Linked DNA regions of Homo sapiens: region 1 is linked to region 2. The links come from fine-mapping of genetic effects on gene expression. Tissue or cell type: whole blood. Region 2 holds a variant in brackets; the other region holds the start of a gene. All regions are shown on one strand. Distances are between the middles of the regions.

The links. PIP is the estimated chance that this variant, and not a neighbour inherited with it, causes the effect.
Region 1: it holds the start of KIFC3, and the variant in region 2 is fine-mapped to the expression of KIFC3 in whole blood (INTERVAL, PIP above 0.99).

The regions. Positions count from the first base shown.
Region 1 is chr16:57,798,788-57,806,944 of GRCh38, reverse strand. It overlaps KIFC3 (kinesin family member C3), which reads left to right and starts at 4,454. Exons shown (of 20, transcript NM_001130100.2): 1 at 4,454-4,575. RefSeq lists enhancers at 3,481-4,157, 4,835-5,511.
Region 2 is chr16:57,730,329-57,738,488 of GRCh38, reverse strand. It overlaps DRC7 (dynein regulatory complex subunit 7), which reads right to left. Exons shown (of 19, transcript NM_001289162.2): 18 at 7,419-7,558; 19 at 6,684-7,324. The coding sequence ends at 7,231. It overlaps KATNB1 (katanin regulatory subunit B1), which reads right to left and starts at 2,719. Exons shown (of 20, transcript NM_005886.3): 1 at 2,634-2,719; 2 at 1,206-1,511. The coding sequence starts at 1,245. LOC107984852 (a long non-coding RNA gene) reads left to right here and starts at 1,845. Exons shown (of 2, transcript XR_001752221.3): 1 at 1,845-2,053; 2 at 2,882-4,660. RefSeq lists enhancers at 1,524-1,593, 2,962-3,131, 2,878-3,172, 3,152-3,261, 3,891-4,868 and a silencer at 2,412-2,651. The variant C/T (reference allele first, on the strand shown) is at 4,360.

The DNA.
Region 1 (8,157 bases), 68 kb before region 2:
GTCCAGCCTCCTCCGTAGTTCTTTCTGCGGTGCTCATGATGAATGATTTCAGAGGGATTGGAAGATTGGAAGATGTGGATTCAAAAAAGCAGCTAATTGGGTCAGGATTACTTAATATGCGGCTCACTCCAGAATGAGTTTCTCCAACTTCAATAAATGTTCTGTTACCCAGAAGCATGAGAGGACACACTTTTCACAGCTGCAGGGCACTCCTTCCTGACCACATGGAAATAATTGCTAAGGAGCCTTCTCTTACTTCCTTTTGGTAGAAATTATCATTACTTTACATGGGAAGAAAGTCTGTTTGGGTACATTTCACGCACCTGTTCTTCCCTTCTGAATTCTATGGGATCTATGGATTTATTCAATGAACATGTCTGTGATACCAGGCCCTGAGCTGGGGTCAGCTGAGGATTTCCCTGTGATCAAGTAACGAAAGGGTCCTGTCCTGAAGGAGCAGATGGTATACACAGGAACGCCATCATGATCCAGGGTCGGGGATGCTGCAGGGGGTGAGTTGAGCCCGCCTGCTGGTGCCTGGGAGGGTCAAAGAAGGTGACCTCTAAACTTGAAGGAGGGACAAGCAGGTATGGAATTGGCCAGGTAAGGGTTAGTGGAGGCAGATGAGAATGGGGTGAAGGAGAGGGGCTTTCCAGGCAGGGAGGACAACATTTGCAAAGGCTCGGAGAAGACTTGATCTGAGGTTAAATCATTTAAAATGGGAAAATCATGTAAATCTTATCTGTGCTTTACTCTGGGTTGCTATGAGAATCAGATTAAACACAATCTGACTTTTCATTCCCCTTCTTTCCTTCCCTTTGGGGAGCAGAACTCTCAGGCTCTTGGCCACTTCTCTGACGAATGCCTGAGCAGTAAAGGGTTTCAGGCCCTCTGAACACAAAGATGGGTCAGGTGTGGTGGCTCATGCTTGTAATCCCAGCACTTTGGGAGGTTGAGGCGGGCAGATCACCTCAGGTCAGGAGTTCGCAAGCAGCCTGGCCAACGTGGCAAAACCCCGTCTCTACTAAAAATACAAAAATTAGGAGTTTGAAAGCAGCCTGGCCAACATGGCAAAACACCGTCTCTACTAAAAATACAAAAATTAGCTGGGCGTGGTGGCGCATGCCTGTAATCCCAGCCACTTGGGAGGCTGAGGCAGGAGAATTGCTTGAACCCAGGAGGCAGAGATTTCAGTGAGCCGAGATTGCGCCACTGCACTCCAGCCTGGGCAACAGAGTGAGACTCTGTCTCAAAAAAAAAAAAAAAAAAAAGTCTATGGGCATACCACCGTGAACACACCTGATCTTGTCTGAACACAAAGATGGCGCTGCTAGTCCCTGCCTGGGGATGGGGTGGATGTGGGCGTGGAATTGCAGTGTTCTGGACACTGTCTTCTGTCTGGCCCTCCCTGAGACAGCTGTGCCTCTGCCAGAGTTCGGCAGGAAGGGTCAAGGCTAAGGCTGAACCCAAGAGTCCTCCCTCAAGGGTTTAGGACTTCAGTGTTGGAATGGCCAGGTTTCAGCAAAACTTGCACCTTTCCCGGGGCCAGGAGAGTTGGCAGCCTCCTATGCAAATCATCAGCGAAGTTTCTGGGTTAGAAATGACCTTGGAGTTGGTACGTAGTTCCTGATGACATTGTACATTCTTAAATTCCAACAACTGGGATGGGCATGGTATGGTGGCTCATGCAAATAATCCCAGCACTTTGGGAGGCTGAAGCAGGATGATCGCTTGAGGCTAAGATTCTGAGACCAACCAGGGCGACAGAGCTAGACCCCGACTCCACACAATATTCTTTTTAAAAAACTGAGTCATGCTGGGCACGGTGGCTCATGCCTGCAATCCCAACATTTTGGGAGGCCGAGGCAGGGGGATCACTTGAGGTCAGGAGTTCGAAACCAGCCTGTCCAACATGGTGAAACCCTGTCTCTACCAAAAATATAAAAAATTAGCTGGGTGTGGTGGTGTGCGCCTGTAATCCCACTGCACTCCAGCTTGGGTGACAGAGCGAGCCCCCGTCTCAAAAAAAAAAAAAAAAATTGAGTCAGGCACAGTGATTCACATCTTCACATCTGTAATCCCAGGACTTTGGAAAGCCAAGGTAGAAGGATCCCTTGAGCCCAGGAGTTTGAGACCAGCCTGGGCAACATAGTGAGACACCCCCATCTCTACTTAAAAAAAAAAAAAATTAGCTAGGCACACTGGTGTGTGCCTGTAGTCCCAGCTACTCAGGAGGCTCAGGTGGGAGGATCACTTGATCCCAGGAGTTCGGGGCTATAGTGAGCTATGATTGCATCACTGCACTCCAGCCTGGGCAACAGATCAAGATCTTGTCTCAAAAATGCAACAACCATGAAACAAGTAGTTTTTACGTTTCAAATCGGAGTTTTGCTAGAATTCCAAAAATACAACCTCCTTACACTTCAATTTCCTTTTTCCTTCGCTGGTGCTTTGATCTTAATAAGTTGTTATACCCATATGCATCTGATAGTACTGTGTGAGTACCTATTGGAGTCATAGCTCTATCACACACTGCATTTGTGAACAAACTTTCTGAGGCTCAGTTTCCTTTCCTGAAACACGGGTGTCCTGAAACAGTACTGGTGTTCATAGGGTGTTCAGGGTTAAATGGGATTTTGTTTATAAAGAGCTTAGTGCTGTGCCTGACACAGTGTTAGCTTCAATAATGGCATCTATTATGTACACAGGAAAAAAAAAGACTTCTAAAGTGTTGGCAGCATTTATCTCCAGTGTGTGGGATATGGTTACAATGAACATCTATTACTTTTGTAATCAAAGCAAAAGAACAATAAATGTTATTATTAATTTAAAAATCTGGCTTTGGCTTTGGTGGGAAGGACCTACAGTTAATGTCAATGTACTCAATCCCTGAGTAAGAAAAAGTCTCCAGTTTTGAACCAGGACTTTAAAGACATTCTGTCCTCCCCATCCCCCGCCCCATCAACTCATAGGGACTATAATCAAGGGAGATAGATACTAAATCAGAATTCTAGAGACATTTTGCCTTCATCCACCCTTGCGGTCCCCTGGATCACTGCTGTTTGGAGGGCAGGCAGAGGAATTCAGAGATCATAACTCCCCAAATAAGGCTTTCTCTCCCATTGGAAGGGTTCTCCAGTGTGGTGTTCAGCTGGAAATCTAACTCTCTAGGGAATGATTCCAGGAGCGTTACATTCACCCTCTATCAGGCCTTCACTGAGGAATCTCAGTTGTCAAATAAAGCATGCACTAGGCTGCTTCCAGCTGGGGGACTGTGACTGTCCTGCTCTGGCGTCCAGAACAATCTGAGGCCCAGGCCCTTGGCTCCGTCGCTGGTCGAGATTCTTGACTGGCAGCCCAGCGCCTGGGCGGCAGCAGGAGATAGAACCCACCTGGAGTTGCCCGACCCCCTCCAGTCCTCTCCTTGATCTTCTTGGGCCATCCCCTGACAAGCAGGAAGGGACAGAGTACCCGCCCTCCTGGGATTATCTGCAGAACCGTCAGCCTGCATGGGCTGGCTTCAGAGTGACTTGCTTTCTCCTCTTCCGCACCCGGGGGTGTGGAGAGTGAGGGAGAATATTGCTGCTGGCTCTGGAATAAAATGCTGCCTCTGTTTGGGAGACAAAGAACAGAGTGGCTCCTCCAGGTCAGCTGTCTCTCCCGGCTGGCAGGCCCCTGGCCTCCCCCAGGCCTCTTCTGAGGCTCTAGGTGCCCCAGTAGCAGGGCCTTCTGCAGCAAGGCCGGGAACTGCTGCACCATTGGTGTGTTTTACCTTAAGGGACTCCAGGCAGCTTCCTTGCTGGGAAGATATTCATTTGCTGGGGTGGGGCTGGGGGTGCAGAGGTAGGAAGTGCTGTGGCTAGAAGGCGGCCTGGCCAGCGAGTAGGTGGTGGAGCGAGTGAGAGCGTGTGCGCTGTAAACAGTGTGAGTGCATGTGCGCCAGCGCGTGCAAGGACACGGTAAGGGATGTACATGTATTGTCTCGTGAGTAAGAGCTTGTGTGTGTGTTGGGATGGGAAGACACGTACTGGTATGAGAGCCCGCGTGAGAAGTGTATGTGTGAGTACTCGCGTGGAAGTTTTGCACTCGGGTTTGAGGCTGTGCAAAAGTACGCATGGCTCACCAGGTGTGGGGCTGTGTGGGCTGCCTCGTGTGTGCCAGCCCGTGTGCAGGCCTGTTTTGTGAGAGCCTTCAGGGAACGCATGAGCACGTGTGCCAGTGCGAGTGCGGGACGCGGGGAGGCGGGAGAGACCGAGTGGGAGGCCCCGCGAAGGAGTGGGAGTGGGAGTGGGAGTGCCGGCGGGAGACCTGCGGGGGCGCGCCCGGGCTGACGCGTGCGCGCCAGTGCGCGTGAGTGCGGGCGCGCGCCGCCGCCCCCCGCCGGGGTCGGAGCCGGTTGCCATGGGAACGCGCCGCGGCCCGAGTTAATCATTTCCTGTGGAAAGTGTGCGGGAGGGGCGCGAGCGGGCTGGCCGAGGAGGAGGCGGCGGCGTGGAGCTGCCTCCTGCCGGCGGGCCGGGCCGGGCCGAGCCCCGGGCGCTGCGGCGACGCCTGGATCCTGCCTCCGCCAGGCCGGTGAGTGGGGGGCCCGGGCGGGCTGGGTGCGAGCGGGGCGCTGGGCTCTGCCCGGCCCGCCGTTTGGGGCGCCGCGTCCGGGCCGGCCCTGCCCTCGGGACCCCTCTGCCCGGACCCGCTATGGGCGCGGGGAGGGAAAGGCCCGGGAGACCCAGCCCTGCGAGGTCCCCTCCAGCGCCGTTCAGCCCGAGTCGAGGACCTTGCTGGGAGCTGGGCACAGGGGCGGCGTGTCCCACGGGATCCGAGCAGCCTCGGGACCCCGTTTGGATTTTATTGAACGAGAAGAGCGCAGACCCTACCCGGGATGGGCTTGTCAATCGGCGCCGCCCTCTCCCCTTCCTGGCGTCTTCCCCACCCCCAGGGCTCCCTGGAAGGCTGCCTTTGGGTCCCTCCCACCACGTCCCTTGGGGAGTTCGCTTTTTCCCTGGCAGGGCCTGGGGCGGGGTGCGCCCGCCCAGAGGTTAGGAAGAAGGGCCTTGGCCGGTGCCCTCCGGGCAGTGAGGAATCGGGCCATTGACAGCCGCAGCAGTTGTGAGGGTCTCAGCAGGGAGGGCGATCCCAGGACCACCCCTTTAAGCCCAGCATTGCTAGTTAGAGCAGAACTCTGGCTGGTGCAGTGAAGGGCCTGGTCCTGGGAGATATTAAAGAGGAAGCTGTGTTTAATTAAATTCTGGAGTACCATTTACTGCCACCCAGCCCCCACCTCCATACCCCAACACTGTCTCAAGATTGCGGGTTGTGGCCACCCCTGGTCTTTCACCTTCCCCGGCTTTTCCTCTGCCTGAACAGGGTGAGCACCCATTCTTTCCCAGACGTGTATTCCCCATGCCCTTGTTAGAGTAGCCGTCTCCTTGACCAGGGAGAGTCATTTGCTAGGAATGCAGTCTCAGAATGGGGCCCTGCATTTGCAGTGAGTGGACTTTAGGGGCACAGGGTGGTGAGTTCTGCTGTTCACAGGGGCACCAGGGAGCAGAGGGTTTGAAATCTAGGTTGCCCTGGAAAGCCCAGGATAGATGATGGTGTGCAGGGAGGTGGCATTCCCTGTACAACTTCCTTGACCTTCTGCCTGCTCTCCCAGGGCGACCAAGCCCTGCTTGCTGCAGTCTCTGAGCAGCTGTCCAGCCTGTCCCCCCAGTCTTTGCAATGTCCCTGATCTAGGGCAGGGGGAGTATTGCAGCTCTGCTGTCCTGGTCTAAACCCAGAGAGGCAGAGACCCTCTTCCCCAGCCAGGCCCTCTGCATTCACCCACCACTGGAGCAAAGTAACTGAAAAATAAAATTTTGGAGCTCTTTGTATATGCCAGTATTGTTCTGAACACTTGGCCTTGTCTAATCTTTAGAGCAACCCTATAAGGTGGTGTTCTCCCCATTTTATAGATGGAGATAATGAAGTACGGAGAGGCAAAGTAATTCTCCCAAGGTCAGACATCTAGTAAACAGGGGAGCCAGGTTCTGAACCAGTCCCACTGCCCTCCCCCACGAATCCTAGGTTGGTAGAAGTCCCCGGACACCAGGTTTCATCTCAGATGCCCATGTAAATGAGAGAGAGTCCTGCTTTCTTGGCCCAGAACCCTGGGCTTAAGATTCCTTGATACTTTTGACCTTCACACCCCTGAGGCTGCTAAATTCAGCTGCTTTTTCCTCTTCGGGATCTAGCACACGCCCTTCCTCTTTCTTCCCGATATCTTCCTGGCTGCCTCCTCCACTTCCCTTCCTGATAACCGCAGAAACGCTATCTCCTCCTGTCCCTGCCCCTCAGACTGAGCTGAGCTGATCTCCCTGAAAGTCTTCTCTGTCCACTGTGGAGTCAGCCTCCAATGCCCTGCACTGTCTCACCTTCCCAGCAGCCGAGACTGCAGATGGACCTGCCTTGCTCCTTCCCTTGCCCATTGGACAGCTGGTCTGCAGGGTTGGTTGTGTGCCCAGCTCTGTGCCAGGCAGCCTGGAGAAGAGGACATTTGGCTGCTCCCCTTGGTTTCTTCCACGCCACACTGGTCCATCTCAGTTTCCTCAGTGGAGCTGGCCCACGTATTTAGATCAGCCTCTGCCCTGTCCTTTGGCCCACATTCCCATCCCCTTCCCAGTAAGACTGAACCTAGGAGCCTCCTAGTTGTTCTAAGTCAAGGAAGGAAGAGACCATGGCTTCCTCGCCAGGTGCCTGGCATTCTTCCAGGGTTGGGCTCTGCAAACATCAGACACCAGATCTTCAGGCCCCTAACCCCTGGACCCTTTACTTTATTATTTATTTATTTATTTATTTTTGCCTCTCAATGCTTTAGTCACTCCTGTCTCTCTGTCTCCCCAATATGCTCAACTCTCCCCCTATTCTAGACACCACATCCTCTCCTTCCCATCCTAGCCAAACACCCCCAAGGAGAAGGAAGTGGCTGCTTCCTCCCCCAGCTCCCGCCCCACTCTTTGAGCCCTCCGAAGTTTGCCATCTGCCCTTCTCCCTCCACAGGCTCAGGCTTTCTGCCTGTCTGGGCTTTCAGTCCTCCACGTCTCTTTGGCATGATGCACTGGGCACTGACCAACCTCTCCTTCCCACTTACACTTCAGTCACTTCTGAAAACTCTATACTTGCCTGGAGCTCCTGTCCCTCTCTCAGCTTCCTTCTGCAGCTTTCCACCCCGCAGTGAGCCCTGTTATCACATGGCTGTCTCCTCTTGCTCAAGCTTTGATGATTGCCTCCTCACCTGTGGCGTTGGTGGCCCTGTTTAGCTCTGAGTCTGTGTCCAGCCCTGACCTCTCTTCCAGGCTTCAGTTCAAGCTTTTGTGTGTGTTCATTTCAGAACGTTCACCCCACAAGCCATCCCAGAGTTCTTAGTGTGGGTGCAGCTGCAGACTGGGTGCAGTGGGGCTGCAAACATGAATGTGTGTGGGCCCATAGTGGGTCAGGGGAGGTGGACACCCTTCAAATAGCTATCTTCACTTCCTGGCAGGAAGTGGCCACTGCAGTGACGGATGGGGAGAGTAGTCGACAGCCCAGGAAGCTCCACTAGGAAGTCCTTCAGTTACCCCCACCTCAATCTTAAAACCCCATGTTGCCTCTCCAAGCTGACTTCGCTTCTTCTGTAAATGACATTACTGTCTGAGTCTGGGACTGTAGCATGATCACCTTAAATGTCCTCAAGGTTGCTTTGCACACAGTAGGTGCTCAATAAAGACTTCTGCAGGGAATACCTGAGCTCTGTTCATTTGTTCAGTTCATGAGGGACCTATCCCTGACTGAAGCTTTCTATCCCTGACCAATGCTCTCTGCCCCCCTCCATTCCCCACACCACCTGGTGCCTGGCTCGCACCTGCCGCCTCCAGTAGCCTGCTCAGACTGTGAGGGTTTTTTTGAAGTGTTTATCTCCCTTCTGACTGGGAGTTTTCAGGCCTCATCTCTTCTGATCCAAAAGGACCCCTGGCAGATGCCTGGCACCCAGTAGGCATTATTAAATGAAGACTGAATGAATCTTTGTATCTCAACACCCATACGGTGCCTGCCACATGCTAGGCACAGAGCGCAGGCTAGTCGAATACATGAATGAGAACTTACTGTATATAGACTTCACTTGTCATTGGCCACAGTCAGGGC
Region 2 (8,160 bases):
AGGTCAGGGGTTCGAGACGAGTCTGGCCAACATGGTGAAACCCCGTCTCTACTAAAAATACAAAAATTAGCCGGGTGTGGTGGCGGGTGCCTGTGATCCCAGCTACTCGGGAGGCTGAGGCACGAGAATCGCATGAACCCGGGAAGCAGAGGTTGCAGTGAGCTGAGATTGCACCACTGTACTCCAGCCTGGGTGACAGTGAGACTCTGTCTCAAAAAAAAAAAAAAGTGTGGAGTCTTGTCCCAGCTCCTGAAAACCAGCCCAGGGACAGCTGGCAGCAGACAGTGACCAGGTGGAGCACACAAAAGCTATGCCAACCAGTTACAATAGGTGGGGCAGGGCCCACCAAGGTGCCAATGTGTAGGGGAATTCTCAAAATATGATCTGGGGATGCTTGGGATCCTCAAGATCCTTTCGGGGGGTCTGAGAAGACAAAAGGATTTTCACAATAACACTAAGATGGCATCTGCCTTTTGCACTCTCATTTGCTCTCAAGCATATGGTGGAGTTTCCCAGAACATCACTAGAGGCCTATTTGATTATATACTCTTGTTTGAAAATGTCTCAGTATTAACTTCTAACGTGGTAAATACTGACAGATATATAACTCCAACAAACAAAAGCACTCTGGGGTCCTCAATAATTCTTAAAGTATGAAGTCTTCAGATGAAAGAGTCCAGATCCACTTGTATAGGGCAATGGTGGGAGTGGACAGTGCCCATCAGTTACAATCCGAGCCCTGTCTGCATCCCTCTGCCCGCCCCTCCTCGCTCCCACTCCTTCCCCCATCCCAGGCCCAAGATGCTTTTATCTGACTGGGGAAGTTTGACTTGTGAGATGTCTGAGAATGCTGTGAACATCTTTCAGGATTTCTCACCCCACTGTCAGCCTAACTGGAAATGCTGTGCTAAGTGCTTTAGGATGGGTTCATCCTGTCACTTGAATTTCACAGCAACCATAGAATGCAGGCGTCATCTCATTGTACATATAAGAAAACTGAGCCTCAGAGAGGTTAAGTCACCTGCCCAGTGTCACCCAGCTAAGAAGTGCCACAGTCATGATTTACATAATGGTCTATCTTACTCCCAAGTCTAGGAGTCTCCTCCTGTGCCAAGAACAGGAAACAAAGCTGTGGGTTCAGGCCTCCCAGCAACAAGCCGCTAACAGAATAAATGGGGTGATAAAGAAAAATGAAAACCACTCACGCAACTTCCAGGCTGTCTTGGTGACCACAGGGGTGGCCATCCTTCAGCTGGCTGGCACCTGAAGCCCCACCCACAAAATAAACTGTGCTTTCCTCGTGGGGTGGGGGTGGATCCCCCCCCAGATCCACCAATCAAGTTGGCAGAGAGTTCCCACACATCCAGGCAGACAGAATGCCTCGTCTTCTGGCCCTGGGGTGCCTCGTGGTTCCAAATTACCCACAGCAGCAACAGCAGCAGCCTGTGCACATCTGTCACGATCCTGGATCATGGAATGTTAGGCTCGAGCCATCTCAGCTCAATACAGGGCTGCAATACAAACAAGAGGTGACGTCATGTTAGAAAATGCTTGGTAAGAGCTGTTGCTCCCTGGATCACCAAGACCACTTGATAAAGACTGACACCCACCAAAGCCACCAGAGTCAGAAGCTGCACTGCAAATTAGGTTTGGGAATCTGCAGAGGGGGCACCTCAGGTAGGGTGATTTGGAACGTAAGGAAAAAGAAACTCCTCCCAGAGGCCAGGATAATGAGCTGCAGCTCTGTTCCGGGATGCTGGCTGCCTAAAGTGCAGCAGCCGCAGTGGGGCGGAGAAGACCACGTGTCTGCAATTCACATAGATTTCCTGCGAGTCGTTGTTTTTGTCTGACGTGTGGGATGTGGGAGAGCGGAGTCAGAAGCTAAGCTTAGGGGCCTAGGAAAGGCATCCCAGAGACGGCCACTGAAGTCCTCCTTGGAAAGAATCTCGAAGACGACCCTGATGGTCCAATTCCCCAGCTCCTGGCAAGGGAACCGCTCCTGCTCCCTGCGATTCCCAAGGACAGAGCTAGGAACTAGGCCTCCAGTCTGGGCGTAAGTGGCTATGACTCTTCAACTCTAAAAGGCCTCCTCATGGAGCCTCCCACCTCCTTCCCACAGCCACTTCACCTCTTTCCCATGAGCCCGCTCCCCTCCGTCCCCTTTCTCCTGGGTCCCCGGGTCTGCCTCTCTAGTCCTCCGTTCACACCCCCTTTTCTCCCTGCCCCCTGAGTCTCCCACTTATGCACATCCTGTCTCCCGATATCCCTCACGTGGCCCCTGCCTCGCCAGACTCCCGTTACTGCCCTTTCCCATATGCTCGCGGGGTCTCCCATTCATTCATTCTCCTACTTCTCTTCTCCCTATTCATTACCTGTCCTTCTGCAGACCCCCAGCTCTGCTTCCGGCCTCCCTGGTTTTGCCCCCTCCGGCCTCCACCCCGACCCCTCTCGTCCGGGGGCGGGGGCAGGTCCCTCGGCCACGGCTGATCCTCCCAACCCTCTGCTTGCGGAGTACGGGCTCTAGCCTCCCCACGCTCAGAGCTCTCTGCCCGCAAGCCCAGCCAGCCCCGCCTGGCTCGGCCCAGCCCAGGGCCCACCGTCCCCTCGCCACCTCGTCCCCTTGCCCACTCCACCTGCAGCTGCGGCTCCGGAGGCCGAGGCTCCGCTCCAGGCGCGACCCCCACTTGCCTCCATCCCCTGCCTTGATTGGCCGCTGCTTGACAACCGACCCTCACAACAAAACCTCCGGCTCAGAGCCCCGCCCACCTTGCCTCCCGCACCAATCAGCTGCCGCGGGTGCTCCGCCTCCTGCCAGGACTGACCAATGGAAGCAGGCGCTTCTGCCGCTTTTCCTCAGTACCCGCCCTCTTTTCCTAAATAGGACTAATCAAGAGGAAGGAACGTTCAAGAGCCGCCCCTTGGCCTCTAATAAACCAATGCAAGCTGCCGTTTCCTTAGTCCCGCCTCCGTCTCAAGTTTTCCCTTTCCTCTCCGTTTCCTCCCTCGAACCTAATTTGTGTCTGAAAACTTTTGAGAGCCGCCCTCCAATGGCGGCTGCGCCAATGGCTTGAGCAACCGTCCTGGATTGACCAATCAGCGTCCGCATTATTGGAAAACTCAATTCCCAGATAGCCAATGGGAAAGGAACTTCGGGGGCAGTGTGAAGCCTCAGGCCTTCCATCTTGGAGTGGGGCAAAACCTAAGGAGGCCTTAGTCGGCATTTTGCCGAAGCTCCTCATTCTTCACTTTGCCTGCAGATGGTCCCCCGTGGCAGGAGGACTTTGTCCCTGTTCTTTGACCCGGACGCCGGCTTGAATCCCCCATGGGAGGTCTAGAAGGAAACAGCCTGATTCCGGAGCCGAGGCAGGCGCTGAACCCTGTAGCACTGCACACGCAGCCACCGCCTCGACTAATGGATGCGTGGGCAAGGGGCTGCTCCCTGAATGGCTGCAATCAGGGAATCGGAGAAAGGCCAGCTTTATTTGTGACACGTTGGGCGGGGTGGGCTCTGGGAAGCGCCGTAACCCTTCTCGACTCAGGGCCTCTCGCGTGGCCGCTTAGGAGGGACTTGGCCCCGCAGCCGCCTCTCCCTGTTGCCCAGAGGTTGTCCCAGGCACCCAGAGCCCCTCGAACCTTGCCCTTCGGCCTCCAGCCTCTCACCGCAGGTCAGGGCTCCTTGGGCTCACATAACGCCCAGTACAACCATAAGAGGTAGGAATTCCTGTTCCCATTTACAGATGAGGAAACTGAGGCCCGGGTTAAGATGCTTGCAGAAAACCACACGGTCAGAAAGTAATAGCCCCAGAATTCGAACCCTTGTTCTGAAAGCCAAAGCGTGGGGGAGTCCCCACTCTGCCTTCTGCTTCAGCCTTCTGCTTCAGATTCTCCTGCTTCAGCCTCCTGGGTAGCTGGAACCACAGGCGCCCGCCACCACGACGGGCTAAGGCTAGTTTTTATATTTTTAGTAGAGACGGGGTTTCTCCATTTTGGCCAGGCTGGTCTTGAACTCCTGACCTTAGGTGATCCACCCGCCCCAGCCTCCCGAAGTGCTGGGATTACAGGCGTGAGTCACCGCAAGACACCTTTAAAAGATTAGCAGAATAACATCGGATCAAAACTGTCTAGCCTGCAGTTCCCCTTAATTTTGTATTATAAAAAGAAAACTAAACAGAGAAAACTTTAAAAGACAATATAATGATACCACGTAGATTCCAGTACTTGTTAACAGTTTGCCATATTTGCTTCGTCTGTGTGTCTTTTCGGAACCATTTGAAAATTGTAGATATGACATTTCACCCCAACACCAAATACTGAGCATGTATCTCTTAAAAATAAGGCCCTTGGCCAGGCGCGGTGGCT[C/T]ACGCCTGCAATCCCAGCACTTTGGGAGGCCAAGGCGGGCGGATCACCTGAGGTCAGGAGTCCGAGACCAACCTGGCCAACATGGTGAAACCCCGTCTCTACAAAAAAATACAAAAATTAGCCGGGCGTGGTGGCGCACGTGCCTATAATCCTAGCTACTGGGGAGGCTGAGGCAGGAGAATCACTTGAAACTGGGAAGCAGAGGTTGCGGTGAGCTGGGATGGGGCCACTGTACTCCAGCCTGGGCGACAGAGTGAGATCCATTTCAAAAAATAAAAATAAAGCCCTTATTCTACAATAACCATTGTTATCACCACTGCTAAGAAAATTTAATTCTGTAACAACCAGTCCATATTCGTATGTCCCCAGTCATCCCAAAAACCTTTTAGGACTTTTTTTTTCTAACTAAGAACCAATCAGTATTCACCACACTTGACTCTTAAGTTCTTTCCATTTCTGTCCCCAAACTTTTATTTTTATGACATCGATCTTTTGAAGAGATCAGGCCATTTACCTAGATTGTCCCACGTTAGGAATGTTTCCTTTTAGTATCATTTACCTGAATTTCCTGAAGTTCTTGTTAGATGGACGTTCTTCTTAAATGCATTTCTTCCCTTGAATTTCTTAAGTTAGGGCTAAAGGCTTGATTAGATTCATGACAACAAGCAGTCAAAAACACTCCAGAGGACACATTGTAAGTGCACAAGGTTGATGAATTTTTACAAACCGAACACACCCAGGTCAAAAAGCAGAACGTGACTAGAAACCAGAACCTCCCCTCCCAGGGCTCCATGCTCACATCCATTCACTAACCCTCACACTCCAAGAGTGACGGTTGTCCTGACTTCTAATATCACCAATTAATTTTCCTTATTTTTGTTCTTTCCATAAATGGAATAATAGAGTATGTACTTTTGTGTCTTGAATCTTTTGACATTATACTTAGGCAGTTTGACCATATCATTCCATATAGTTGTGTTGCAGTTCATTCATTTTCATTGCTCTATGATATGGTTTGGCTGTATCCCCACCCAAATCTCATCTTGTGAATTGTAGCTCCCATAATTCCCACATATTGTGGGAGGGACCCAGTGGGAGATAACTGAATCATGGGAGGGGTTTCCCACATACTGTTCTCATGGTAGTGAATTAGTCTCACGAGAGCTGATGATTTTATAAGGGATTTTCCTTTTTGCTTGGTTCTCATTCTTTCTTGTCTGCCACCATGTAAGATGTGCCTTTGGCCTTCTGCCATGATTGTGGGGCCTCCCCAGCCGTGTGGAACTGTGAGTCCATTAAACCTCTTTTTCTTTACAAATTACCCAGTCTTGAGTATGTCTTAATCAGCAGTGTGAAAACAGACTAATATACTCTATAACCTCAACATTATTGGCATTTAGACCTAGATAATTATTTGCTGTGGGGGGCTGTTCTGGGCATTGTAGAATGTTTAGCAGCATCCCTGGCCTGTATGCACTAGATGCCAGTAGCATTCTCCCTAAGCAGTTCTCCCTAAGCAGTTAAAGACAACCCAAAATATCTGAAGACCACAATTTATGTATCCATTCTGCTCTTGATGGGCATTTGGGTAACTTCCAAGTATGGTGCTATTATCAATAATGCTGCTATGAAAGTTCTAGCACATGCCTTTTAGCAGATAACTATCTATCTACATTTCGGTTGAGTTGTTCATCATTCTTACTTGATGAATGATGGATTGGAGTAGAACCTAAGAGTAGAATTGTTGGGCTTTAGTTTAGCTTTAATAGATAATGCCAAGCAGTTTTCCAAAATGGTTGTACTGATTTATACTTTCACTAGGAAGGCTATTTGGGAGTTCCAGTTGTTTCTCATCGTCACCAGTACTTTTTATTTTTTTCATACCGGAGGGTGTTGTGACATTTCATTTGCCAGATGACTCATGAATTTGACAACCATTTCATGTGTTTTTTGGCTATTTTGTAAGCTAACATTTAATGACTGCTTTCTATGTGCCATTCCCAGCCTCCCTGCTTTATAATTTATGTCTTTTTTTTCTTTTTTTTGAGACAGGGTTTTGCTCTGTTGCTTAGGCTGAAGTGCAGTGGTGCAATCATGGCTCACTGCAGCCTTGACTTCCTAGGTGAAAGTGATCCTCCTACCTCAGCCTCCTGAGTAGCTGGGACTACAGGCTCATGCCACCATGCCTGGCTCTTTGTTTTTTTTTTTTTTTAGAGATGGGGTCTTATTATGTTGCCCAGGCTGGTCTCAAACTCCTGGGATCAAGTGATCCTCCTGCCTCAGCCTCCCTAAATGTTGGGATTACAGGTGTGAGCCACCACACCTGGCCATAAGTCTTATTTAATGCAACAATGCTACCCCATTCCACAGATGGGTAAGTGGTATCTGGTAAGAGGAGGAGCTGGGATTCAGTCCTCAAATTCTGGGGCATGCATCTTAGCCTTCCCCATCCCACTTGGTGAGGTGGGCCACCCTAGTCACATTGAGATATAACCAGTTGTTTGCAGATGGCTGTGGGACCATCTGCAGAGGTGCTGTGAAGACCTGACATTCCAACGGAGAGAAGGACAGGAAGCAAACGACAGGCCAAGGGGAGGAAGGGGGTGGTCCCAGGCTATAGATAACAGAAGAAGAGAAAGGCTGCTGCTGGAGCTTGTGAAGCGCAAGGCACAAATGGCAAATTAAGAGTGTGTTTATTTACAGGAAAATCATGAGAAGCAGGAACAAACAGGGCTGTAGGGGAGGTGGGCTGGCAGTGAGGCCAGGTGTCTGTGTAAACAGGCATTGGCTGGATAGAGGGAACACAGGAGCCAGGCTGCGGGAAGAGGTTTCCTTTCTCTGGCAGCTCTGGCTGAGGCCCCAGGAGGGACATCAAGCGAATATTTTCTGGAGCTCCCCCAGGCGTGGGTCCTTGTAGAGCTTTTCCTCCAGAGCCAGGTACTTCAGTGGGGCCAGTTCCTTGTGTCTGAAGTCAGAGAGGCAAGGAAAGAGGGTGAGGGGTTACAAAGCTGGTGGTCCAGCCTCCCAGTGGGTTCTCTCCACCTGCCCTGCCTGCTCACCGATTGAGGCGCTGCTCCAGGATGCGGATGCGGAACATGGCCTGAGAGCAGTAACTCAGGTACAGGTCTTCATCCTCGGGTGTCAGCGTCACCTGGTTCTCCTGGTACCACTGCTGCTTCTTTTGCAGCTCCTGGGTCTCCTGTGGTCATAGGGCAGACAGAGAAGGAGGACTGACAAGGCTGACCTTCACCCAGGCTGCAGGCTGCAATCCCATGGGTCACTAGACAGCACCATGACGGTTGGCCCCAGTGTCCCCACTCACACAAGCCACCTATCCATACCTGCCACAGAGGCAGGGGCCACAAAATATCTTGGGTGGGAGCCAGTGGGGTCATGTTTATAGGGATGTCATGTCCATGAGATCAGAACGGGGCAAGACTGAGAGAGCCATGTAGCTCTGGACAAGTTACTGGCATTTTCAGAACCTGCAATTTCTTGTCTACAAAAGGAGGGTCATTGTACTCCCCCCTCCCCTTGTAGAGCTCCTTGTGAAGATTAAGTGACATAATCTTAGTAGTGCACGGGAACTACATGGTGTGTGCCTGACCAACAAAAATGGGTCAAGGACTAGGAGTTGTTACAGTGTACCATCTCTCTGTCTACCCAGCCATCTGCCCATCTATTCCTCTGCCCATCCCTCCACCCATCCCTGCCCATCCATCCGTCCATCCGTCCTTCCACTCATCCATCCAACCGTCCATCTATCCACTCGCCCATCCAACCGTCCATCTATCCACTCGC